Homo sapiens: one gene and its partners. The protein of the gene in region 2 purifies or fractionates together with the protein of the main gene of each other region. This does not show direct contact. Each region holds a gene or a part of one and is shown on either strand. Other genes may lie near its edges.

Region 1 (3,652 bases), on a different chromosome or scaffold from region 2:
GTATTTGTTAGGTGTTCTGATTTCCTCTTGTATGAATTTTATGTATATTTTTACCTGGGTTGTTAATTGTATCATTAGCAGTTTTGCTGGTACTCTGGGTGTGTTGCAGATATTAACCCTTTGTTATGGGTTATTAAGGTTGTTTGTTGTTTGTCTTTTGATTTTGTGGGTTTTTTTTACTTTGACTTCTGTGTACATTATAACCTGCCTTTAAATATGTATCTCTTTTATAGGTAAAAGTTTCATTTGATCTGAATACTATTCAAATAAAATACCTGGATGAGGAAAATGAAGAGGTAAAATATATTATGGCACTTATTGCTAGGTGTTCAGAATAGGGATCTTATTTCTCCAGTGATATGGGCTTTAATAATTCAAAATAGTGTTTAGCTTATTTGTGTGGTGGTTTAAATATATTTGATAACTGAATATTCTAAGAAGACTTGCAGCATCTGAGATGGAGTTGAGAAATGGAGAAGCAACACTGAAGAATATCTCAGAGATAACTTTCACTTAAAAAAAAAAAAAGGAAACAGGGTCTCACTATGTTGCTCAGGCCAGTCTTGAACTCCTGGGCCCAAGCAGTCCTCCCACCTCAGCCTCCCAAAGTGCTGGGATTATAGGTGTGAGACACCCACCATGCCTGGCCTGGCCTGAGAGAACCTTTTTTTTTTTTCTTTTTTTTTTTTTGTGAGATGAAGCCTCACTCCATAACCTAGGCTGGAGTGCAGTGGTGCGATCTCTGCTCACTGCAACCTCCAGCTCCTGGGTTCAAGTGATTCTCCTGTCTCAGCCTTCTGAGTAGCTGGGATTACAGGTGTATACCACCACGCCTGGCTAATTTTTGTATTTTTAGTAGAGACGGTATTTCACCATGTTGGCCAAGCTGGTCTCGAACTCCTGGGCTCAAGCGATCAGCCCACCTCGGACTCCCAAAGTGCTGGGATTACAGTTGTGAGCTACCACACCTGGCCAAGATAACTTTTAAAATTATATAGTGACCTTAAGTTCACATATAGCACAAGCTACCACTTAGTTTATAATAATACAAATATAATGGCTAAGCTTTTTTTTTTTTTTTTTTTAAAGAGGGTCTCACTCTGTTGCCCAGGCTGGTGTGCATTGGCATAGCTTGCTGCAACCTAGAGCTCCTGGGTTCAAGGAATCCTCCCATCTCAGCCTTCTGGGTAGCTAGGACATACCTCTCTGCATCTGGCAAAATTTTTTAATTCTTTGGAGGGATGGAATCTCACTTTGTTGCTCAGGCTAATGGCTAAGCTTTATTGAGTGGTTACAGTGTGTCAGACTAGCCACAGTACCATGTATTGAGTACATTATTATCATCACTATTTTACTCATGAGGAAACTGAGGCACAGAGAGGTGAAAATAACTTGTCCAAATGCACAAAAACTTGGAAGTAGTAAAGTAGCCGTTCAGTCCATACCCTCTGGCTGTAGAACTCAAGCTCCTAACTGTTATATTGCACTGCCTTTTAATGTATCTGAAATAAAGGAGGGCACAGTAGATAAGCAATAAAATTTCTTAAGTGTTATTCATGACTAGCAAGTGATATGGAAAAGCTGAACGCTTGGCCTGAGTTTTTGTCTGTCCTATGGGGCTGGTCCTAGTAACAGAAATGCTCAACTGATGAGACACTTATAATTCACTGTTGCTTTTTTTCCTTTTATAGGTATCCATCAACAGTCAAGGTGAGTCCCTAAGAGAGTCTGTTCAGCCTTGTTTAAAAACCTTAATCTGCTCATTGAGGCATTTCTATTTATACTCAAACCTTATTGCAGTATTAATTTTAGAGTGACATTGCACTGATGGACATTAGTTACCTAGGGGATTTTATTGTATAGCAGTTTTTTATATATAGGATGATGCCTTTGAATGGACCCTAAGGACAGCTTTAATGGGAGGTTCTCATATTTAAGATGCCAGTCCTCTGAAATTAATATGCCTCCCAGTTCAACACATATAAGTATTCCCATGGTGTTGCATTTGTTTCTGACTTGGTATATATGTTAATATCAACTTATAAAACAAGTGGTATTCCAAAAGTTTATTTATCAGATGTTCAGAGCTTGGAGTGCATTTTCCCATAGGAACCATGTTATAGTTGAAGATTAGTTTCCCACGATAGCCCCTAAAATCTTAATTTAATCAGGTGAAATGATAGTATTAACATTGAACTCTCAGTGCGTAAATGTGAGGGACCTGGGTTGAGATTTTGTAACTGGAAGATTCCCAGTAGTGATGAAGGAGGGATTTAAGGGGAAGAACTGATCTACAGTAGATGCTGTTTGCAACAAAAAGGGAGTTTGTCAGCAAAAAGATAGTTGCTGTTCATATATAATAAGCTAAGAATTCTTTAAAGTCAGGATTAGCTGTACATTTAACAAATTTTTATTGTATATATTGAAGGTGCACAACATGATGTTATGAAATACATATACAGTAATGCATCGCTTAATGACAGAGATTTGTACTGAGAAATGCATCAATTAGGTGATTTTGTCATTATATGGACATCATAGAGTGTACTTACACAAACCTAGATGGTATAGCCTAGTACACACCTAGGATATATGGTATAACCTATTGCTTATAGGCTGCGAACCTGTAGAGCATGTTACTGTGCTGTATACTATAGACAGTTGAAACACAATGGTATTTGCATATCTAAACATAGAAAAGGTACAGTAAAAATGTGGCATTATAATCTTATGGGATCACCATCATACACATGGTTGACCAAAATGTTATGTGGCAATGGTTACTGTAGTGAAGCAAATTAACATATCTATCATCTCATTATAGTGGCCCTGTGGTGCCCTGAGCCCTCCCCAGAAACCAGCCATAATCTACTCATTTAGCAAAAATCATGAATATAATTTACGATTATTTAACTATAATATGTTCCTCATGTTGTACAGTCCATCTTTAGGATTGGCTATCCTTAATCTTATGGAATCTTTGGTTCTTGAATGAATGAATGGATGTGTACAAAATAAAAATAATTTTAAAATAATAGAATCTTTTGGGGTGTGTGAAGAAGTATCATGGTGTATATTTTTTGTTCTTTTAGGAGAATATGAAGAAGCGCTTAAGGTAATGATTATTTAATCTCATTTTTAAATAATTTAAAAAATATTATTATGGGTTGGTTTTTTTTCTTTTTTTGAGATGAGGTTGTGCTCTGTCATCCAGGCTGGTGTGCAGTGGCACAATCTGGGGTTGCTGCAGTCTTCACCTCCCAGGCTTAAGTGATCCTCCCACCTCAGCCTCCCGAGTAGCTGGAACTACAGAAACACGTCACCACGCCCGGCTAACTTTTTATATTTTTCTTAGAGACAGGGTTTCACCATGTTTCCCAGGCTGGTCTGGAACTCTTGGGCTCAAGCAATCTGCTGGCCTTGGCCTCCCAAGTGCTGGGATTATAGGCATGAGCCACTGCGTCTGGCCTAAAATATTTATTGACTGAAACTCAAACCTGAATTCCATTAGTTATGGGGAGAGACTAGTACGTATAAACACAGTGAAACCTGTTTATAGGGAGACTGATGAATGGGCACGACACTCAGCAAAAGGCAATTCATAATAAAAAGGTCCTTCTCAGTTACAGTCCCATCTCTTTGCTGGTCTTTG
Region 2 (3,652 bases):
AAACCAGGCAGGGGAGGGAGTCAGGACTGAGGCTACTCCAGTTGGAGGAGGCTGGGGCATAGGGATGAACAGAGTCGAGAGCCCCTCAGAAATGGGGTTCAGGTCTTGACTTGTTTTTTCTCCCAAGCCCAACCCCCAAACCTCTGGTTCCAATCCCTGGTAGCTCCCTGAGAGACAGGCATGACCACTGATTTCCACAACCCAGGGAAGCACCCTCATAGACTATTTTTTGAATGACCTTGTTCTGGAGTTTCACCCACAGACTGACACTGGGGGGCTGCTCTGTTCCCAGAGGCAGGGGAATGTTTGAAGACCCCACCAGACCTGGGAAGCAGCAACAGCTGGGGCAGGAGCTGAAGGAGCTGATGAACACGGAGCAGGCCTTGGACCAGCTCATCCAGAGCTGCTCTCTGAGCTTCAAGCACCTGACTGAGGACAAGGCCAACAAGAGATATCCTCCTTGGTTGGGGGAAGGTGTCAGGGAGCAGGAACCTGTTGCATGTTTATATCTATCCTGAGTTGATTCAGTAACTTACCCTAAGGGTCTGGCATCTGTTTCTTCCTTCCTGGGTGGCTTTTCTTCTCAAGTCTATTTTTAAAATTATTTATTTATTTTTTTTAGAGACAAGGACTCATTCCGTCATCCAGGCTGTAGTACAATGGCATGATCATAGCTCGCTATAGCCTCGCCCTCCTGGGTTCAAGTGATCCTCCCACCGCAGCCTCCTGAATAGCTGGAACTACAGTCATGTGCCACCATGCCTGGCTAATTCTTTATTTTTTGTATAGACAGGGTCTCGCTTTGTTGCCCAGGCTGGTCTCTAACTCTTGGCTTCAGTCGATCCTCCTGCCTCAGTCTCCCAAAGTGCTGAGATTACAGGCATGAGTCACTGTGCCTGGCCTCAAGTTTATTAAAGGTATTTTTTCATTATTGAAAATAAGCCAAGTAAATTTCTTTAAATCTGGAAAACGGAGAAAAAGAATGATGAGCTGCCACCTTAACATAGCCATTGTTCTTGAACTGCACACAGAATGTGTTTTATTTCAATATAGTTGTAATGTAGTTGTGTGCCTGCTGAACATAGCTTTTTTTTTTTTTTTTTTTTTTTTTTTTTTTTTTGAGACAGAGTCTCACTCTTGCCCAGGATGGAGTGCAGTGGCACAATCTCGGCTCGCTGCAACCTCCACCTCCTGGGTTCTAGTGACTCTCCTGCCTCAGCCTCCTAAGTAGCTGGGATTACAGGTGCCCGCCACCATGCCTGGCTAATTTTTTTTTTTTTTTTTTGAGATGGAGTCTTACTATTGCTGCCCAGGCTGGAGTGCAGTGCCATGATCTTGGCTCACTGCAACCTCTGCCCCCTGGGTTCAAGCGATTCTCCTGCCTCAGCCTTCCAAGTAGCTGAGATTACAGGCGCCTGCCACCACACCCGGCTAATTTTTGTATTTTATGTAGAGACGGGGTTTCACCATGTTGGTCAGGCTGGTCTCGAACTCCTGACCTCAGGTGATCCACCCACCTCAGCCTTCGTAAGTGCTAGGGTTACAGGAGTGAGATACCGCACCCGGCCTTCACACCCAGCTGATTTTTGTATTTTTAGTGGAGATGGAGTTTCACCATGTTGGCCAGGCTGGTCTTGAATTCCTGACCTCAAGTTATCCACCCGCCTCAGCCTCCCAAAGTGCTAGGATTACAGGCATGAGCCGCCGCGTTCGGCCGAATATCTTTATACATAGAATGCTTTCCCATATTTTTACTTGTTTCCTAGGTCAGATCCCTAGGATTGAAATGATGAGGTCAAAGAGCATGGACTTTGCTAAGGCTCTTTCATACATTTTCCAAAATCATTTCATATCTAATTGGTTTTGGATCTGACCTTGTATTTTTGGAAGGATGCTAGGCATTGTGAGAAATATAAAGAAATAAAACACATCTTCCTGCCTTCTCAGAGCTAATGATCTAGTTTGAGAGATGAAGCCTTTACATAAGGCAACATTTTTTATGATTTATAATGTAAGGCAACATTTTTTATGATTTATATTCCCATTTGCTTTCCAAAGGGATCTAAGGTAGCTTATGAGATTAACAGGTTACAGATTGTATTATTTCTAAGTTGTACAAGGAGTGAGAAAGTAATGTTCAGAGGCTTAGGAGAGGTGGGTGAAGGTGCTCCCTGGCAGGTTTGGGGTTTGAATTTTGACCAGACAGTCACTTTTCTTGACTCTCCTGCCCTACGCTGGCCTATGTGACTTACCAGGATATCCGTGCTGTTGGCAACTTTAAGGAGCAGACAGTGATTGCCGTCAAGGCCCCTCCGCAGACGAGACTGGAAGTGCCCGACAGGACTGAGGTGAGAGGGGAAATATTTGGTGGAGAGCAGGGTTGAGACCCTGCCAGGGAGCGTTCCAGGCGGCTCTGCAGACTCTGTCCCTGGCACTGCCTAGCCCCATGCTTTGCAGGCCCATTGTGGTGTCCATGGCAATATTGGTGGCCTTCAAGCTTGGGCAGAAATGGCAGAAGCTGGAAAGGGCAACGGAGACTGAGTAGTGGCCTGAGAAAATCTCTGTTCCTGGTTTCTTTCTGCATCCCACCAGCCCTGGGTTCCTGCGCACATGCACACTCATGCCCACGTATGACGGTGTCAATACTCATGAAAATCCTTTCATGCTGACCGTGCTTTCCCAGGTTAAAGACCAAAATTCCTGACACTCCCTATGAGGCTTCGGTGCTCTGAGACCCCAGCTGACGTTGCCAACCTCCTTTTCCCCGCTGCCCCATCTGTCTTTGTTTTGGCCACACTGACCTGTCTGCAGTTTCCCCATTGCACTAAGCTCATTCCTAGTATGAGATCTTCTGTTTTGTTTGATTTATTTATTTATTTATTTATTTATTTTTGAGACAGAGTCTCACTCTGTTGCCCAGGCTGGAGTGCAGTGACACAATCTTGGCTGACTGCAATCTCCGCCTCCTGGGTTGAAGCGATTCTCCTGCCTCAGCCTCCCAAGTAGCTGAGATTACAGATGCCCGCCACTACTCCCGGCTAAGTTTTGTATTTTTTTTTTAGTAGAGATGGGGTTTCACCATGTTGGTCAGGCTGGTCTTGAACTCCTGACCTCATGATCCACCTGCCTCGGCCTCCCAAAGTGCTGGGATTACAGGCATGAGCCACCACACTCAACCTATTTGATTTTTTTTAAGACAGCGTCTTGCTCTGTCACCCAGGCTGGAGTGCAGTGGCATGATCTCAGCTCACTGCAACCTCTGCCTCCCGGGTTCAAGCCATCCTCCCACCTCACCCTCCTGAGTAGCTGGGACCACAGGTGCATGCCACCATGCCTAGCACATTTTTTGTTTTTTTTGTAGAGACGAGGTTTTGCCACGTTGTCCAGGCTGGTCTTGAACTTCGGCATAGAAGTGATTTGCCCGCCTTGGCCTCCCAAAGTGCTGGGATTATAGGCGTGAACCACCGCACCTAGCCGTGCAAGACCCTCATACATGCTCTTCCCCTCGAGCTGAAATGTTCTTCCCTCTCTGCCTGATTTACCGCTATTCATCCTACAGGTCTCAACTCAAATGTCACTTCCTCAAGGAAGCCTTCTCTGATTACCTCCAGACTTCATAAACACCTGTGCTTTTCCGCTGCCTTTAATTTAA
Region 3 (3,652 bases), on a different chromosome or scaffold from region 2:
ATCTCTGAAAGCTGACACCAAGGAGGATGGAGAAGAGAGAGATGATGAAATGGTGAGTGCCTCTGCCTGACACCAGGAGCACAGGGATGCATCTTTAGTGGGTAGCATCACAGTCACAAGCACTGCTCTGGAGCCCACTGAGTTCAAATGTGGGTTCCAGGACTATCTGTGTTAGTGTCAGTAAGTTACATGGCCTCTGTGTGCCTTGCTGTCCTGATCTCAAAATGGGAATCATAAACAATAGTATCCTTCTCTCAGGGTGAAAAAGTGGGATGTCCTGAAATTTAGTGCTAGGGTGAAAGGGAACATTTAAAAACCTTCAGTCTTGTAGATGAATCTTAAATTCCTCTTGACAACACAATGCCAATCTCATTTCTTTAAATTGCAGACAGATCTCATAAAACTATCTGAGTGGGCTGGGCGTGGTGGCTCATGCCTGTAATCCCAGCACTTTGGGAGGCCGAGGCCGGCAGATCACGAGGTCGGGAGATCGAGACCATCCTGGCTAACCCGGTGAAACCCCTTCCTTACTAAAAATACAAAAAATTAGGTAGGCGTGGTGGCAGGCTCCTGTAGTCCCAGCTACTCGGGAGGCTGAGGCAGGAGAATGGCGTGAACCTGGGAGGTGGAGCTTGCAATGAGCTGAGATTGCACCACTGCACTCCAGCCTGGGCGACAGAGCGAGACTGTGTCTCAAAAAAAAAAAACAAAAAAAACTATCTGAGTGGTTAAAAAATGGCACACAAATATCAGGTATATTTGGGGAAAAGCCATTCAAAATGTGTGAATTAAAACATAAATATCATATTCCTAAAGGCATCTATTAATGGTTTTATAGGAAAAGGGAACTTTGAGATCTGGAAGTGTTTCCGTTGAGATCGGTATTGTACAACTGTTACTTGGGAGTCACTGTTCTAGGAGCTGAGAATACAGGGATGCATAAGACAAATAGATGACATAGAGTCTCTCCTGGCAGAGACACTGCATTCTTGTTTAGGGGGTAGTTAATCTACAAACAAAATGAACAGGAGAAATGTCACCTAGTGATAAGTGCTACGTTGAGAATTAAAATAGGGCATTAGGATTGGCTGACTACTTTAGGTTGGGTTGTCAGGGAGCCCTCTCAAAGACGATGGCATGAACAGTGTGATCTGATGAATGAAGAGGAGTCAGCTATGTGAAGTTGAGAGTGAGGCGTCTTCTGGGTAGTAGAACTTCCAGAGGAAAGTCCTTAAGGTAAGAACTTGCACAGCATGTTTTGTTCGAGGAAATAAAAGGAAGTCTGGTCACTGGTTTAGGAGAGGGTGGAGTAAGATGAAGTTGAAGAGGTACCTGTGGTCCAGGGCATGTAGGGTTTTATGGTAAACAAGAGTCGAGGGTGTTCATTGTATTCTGAGTGTCAGGGGAAGCCTCTGGAAAGTTAAGACAAGGGAATGCTTTGATATGATGTATGTTTTAAATGACCACTGTAGCCCTGAGTGGAATCAGGGAAACCAGTTAGGAGTTTATTGCAGTAGACAACGTAAGAAGGCTGAAGATGATGGAAGTCCGTGGATTTGGGAATCAATGTTAGAGGTAGGGTTGTCAGAGTGTGTGAGGAAAAGAGAAAAATCAGGGATAAAACTTTGGCTTTAACAATTGGCTGGATAATCCTGTCTCTTACTGAGAATGGGAAGATGAGGGTGGAGTGCAGAACACAGAGTCCTTTGGCCATGATGGGTTTGAAATGCTGATTAACCATCCAGGTGAAGATCCCAAGTAGGCATTTGTCTACAGCCACATGGAGTAAGGAAGAGGAAGCTGAGGGTGTGGATTGGGAGTATCTGGCCTATGTAAGATGACCTTGAAAACCCAGGGAAAGGGACTAGAAAGAGTAGAGAAGGGAACTGGATTGGAGGAGACATCAGCAGAGGAGACAAAGAGGAGCCAGTAAGGCGTGAGGAAAATCAGAGCAGAGCGGTCACGCAGCTGAGAGCAGAAAGTGTTTCAAGGAGCGGGGAGCGGTGTCCATGCCCTTCCAACCGGTAACACGTGGATACAGTCTTATTTTGTAATAACCTCAGGCCAAAAGCAACAGTTTTCAGATGAACTATATTCTTACTTTCCTTAAAAGTTACAAAGTAAAACTGAAGAAAAGAACAACAGAAAAAGTGCTTTCTGATAGCTCTCTAACTATTCACTGGTGCCAATTTCTTGAACTTTAAAGTCATAATTTTCCTTTCTTTTTGTAGGAGAACAAACAAGATGTAAGAATCCTGAGGGGTTCGCAGAGAGCACGGAGGAAAAGACGAGGGGATTCGGCTGTACTAAAGCAGGGTGAGCTGATGAAAATAAAGTCTTACTTGTAACTTTATGAAATTGGAAATGGTTCACACAGGTGGAAATTTTAGTCATGCCACTTAAAGTATTACTTCAGGATTTTCTTTGATTCAGTTTGGTCAATAAAGATTTGAGATTTTGAGGATAAGGAAAAAAATGAAAATTCTTAACTTTCAAGTGGTTTCAGGGTAAGCATGAGAACTGTCTTCCTCCCTCCCTCTCTCCCTCCCTCTCTCCCTCCCTCTCTCCCTGCCTCTCTCCCTGCCTCTCTCCCTCTCTCCCTCCCTGTCTCCCTCTCTCCCTCCCTTTCTCCCTCCCTCCTTCTCTCCCTCTCTCCCTCCCTCTCTGTCTCCGCCTCTCCCTGTCTCCCTCCCTCCCTCCCTCCCTCTCTCTCCCTCCCTCCCTCTCTCTCCCTCCCTCCATCCCTCTCTCCCTCTCTCTTTCTCTCTCTCTCTCTCTCTGTTCCCCTCATCAAGTAGGTGTTTCCTGCCTCTGCTTCTCTATAAAACCTCTGTTCTTGTTCATTTCCCACAGTTTTAGGTTTTTAATGTTCCCTCTCAAAACATGAGCTCCTGGCGTGGAACCTGTTTTTTGCCTTCTCTTTTCATCTCTTCTGTCTTCTCTTCCCTTCCCTTCCCTTCTGTCCCCTCCCCTTCCCTTCCCTCCCCTCCCCTCCCCTCTCTTTTCGAGATGGATTCTCACTCTGTCACCCAGGCTGAAGTATGGTGGCGCAATCTCGGCTCACAGCAGCCTCCACCTCCTGGGTTCACGTGATTCCCCTGCCACAGCCTCCCAAGTAGCTGGGATTACAGGTGTGCACCACCAAGCCTGGCTAATTTTTGTATTTTTAGTAGAGATGGGGTTTCATCATATTGGCCAGGCTGGTCTCGAACTCCTGACCTCAAGCCATCTGCCCGTGTCTACCTCCCAAAGTGCTGGGATTACAGGCATGAGCCACTGTGCCTGGCCCTTTTTTTTGTTTGTTTCATTGTTCCTCAGGCAGCATTTTATTTCCAGGAGGAAACCGGCCCTGAAGCCCTTCCCTTTAGTATTTGTCTTGATGTACTTTTCTGCTTATTCTGTGTGGACCTTGGGTCACTTCCATAGAGGCCCTGGGGGATGTCCCCCACAAGGCTCTATCCCCTTGCCTGCCTCAGCTTGCAGCCTGCACAGTCAGTCATACTGTCCCGACAAACCAGGGCCATGAACCAGGTGCTTCTCCTCAGTGCCGGGGTGCATTCTAGCCTTGTTCTGTTAATTCCTCAAAAAACTGGAAATAGCCCCACCTGCCCTAGGCACACAGCTTAACTTTTGTGTCTTTTCAGAGATGACC

What was found.
Region 1: the proteins of E2F2 (region 2) and NBR1 purify together in Homo sapiens (affinity purification with western blotting, with the first as the bait; one study listed by BioGRID). This does not show direct contact.
Region 3: the proteins of E2F2 (region 2) and L3MBTL3 purify together in Homo sapiens (co-immunoprecipitation; one study listed by IntAct). This does not show direct contact.

What each region holds. Positions count from the first base shown.
Region 1 is NC_000017.11:43,177,703-43,181,354, forward strand, and holds part of NBR1 (next to BRCA1 gene 1 protein), read left to right. Parts: intron 1-233; coding exon 234-296; intron 297-1,691; coding exon 1,692-1,710; intron 1,711-3,092; coding exon 3,093-3,115; intron 3,116-3,652. UniProt on the Homo sapiens protein: Ubiquitin-binding autophagy adapter that participates in different processes including host defense or intracellular homeostasis.
Region 2 is NC_000001.11:23,517,712-23,521,363, reverse strand, and holds part of E2F2 (transcription factor E2F2), read left to right. Parts: intron 1-292; coding exon 293-451; intron 452-2,233; coding exon 2,234-2,348; intron 2,349-3,652. UniProt on the Homo sapiens protein: Transcription activator that binds DNA cooperatively with DP proteins through the E2 recognition site, 5'-TTTC[CG]CGC-3' found in the promoter region of a number of genes whose products are involved in cell cycle regulation or in DNA replication.
Region 3 is NC_000006.12:130,052,940-130,056,591, forward strand, and holds part of L3MBTL3 (lethal(3)malignant brain tumor-like protein 3), read left to right. Parts: coding exon 1-52; intron 53-2,231; coding exon 2,232-2,316; intron 2,317-3,652. UniProt on the Homo sapiens protein: Is a negative regulator of Notch target genes expression, required for RBPJ-mediated transcriptional repression. It recruits KDM1A to Notch-responsive elements and promotes KDM1A-mediated H3K4me demethylation.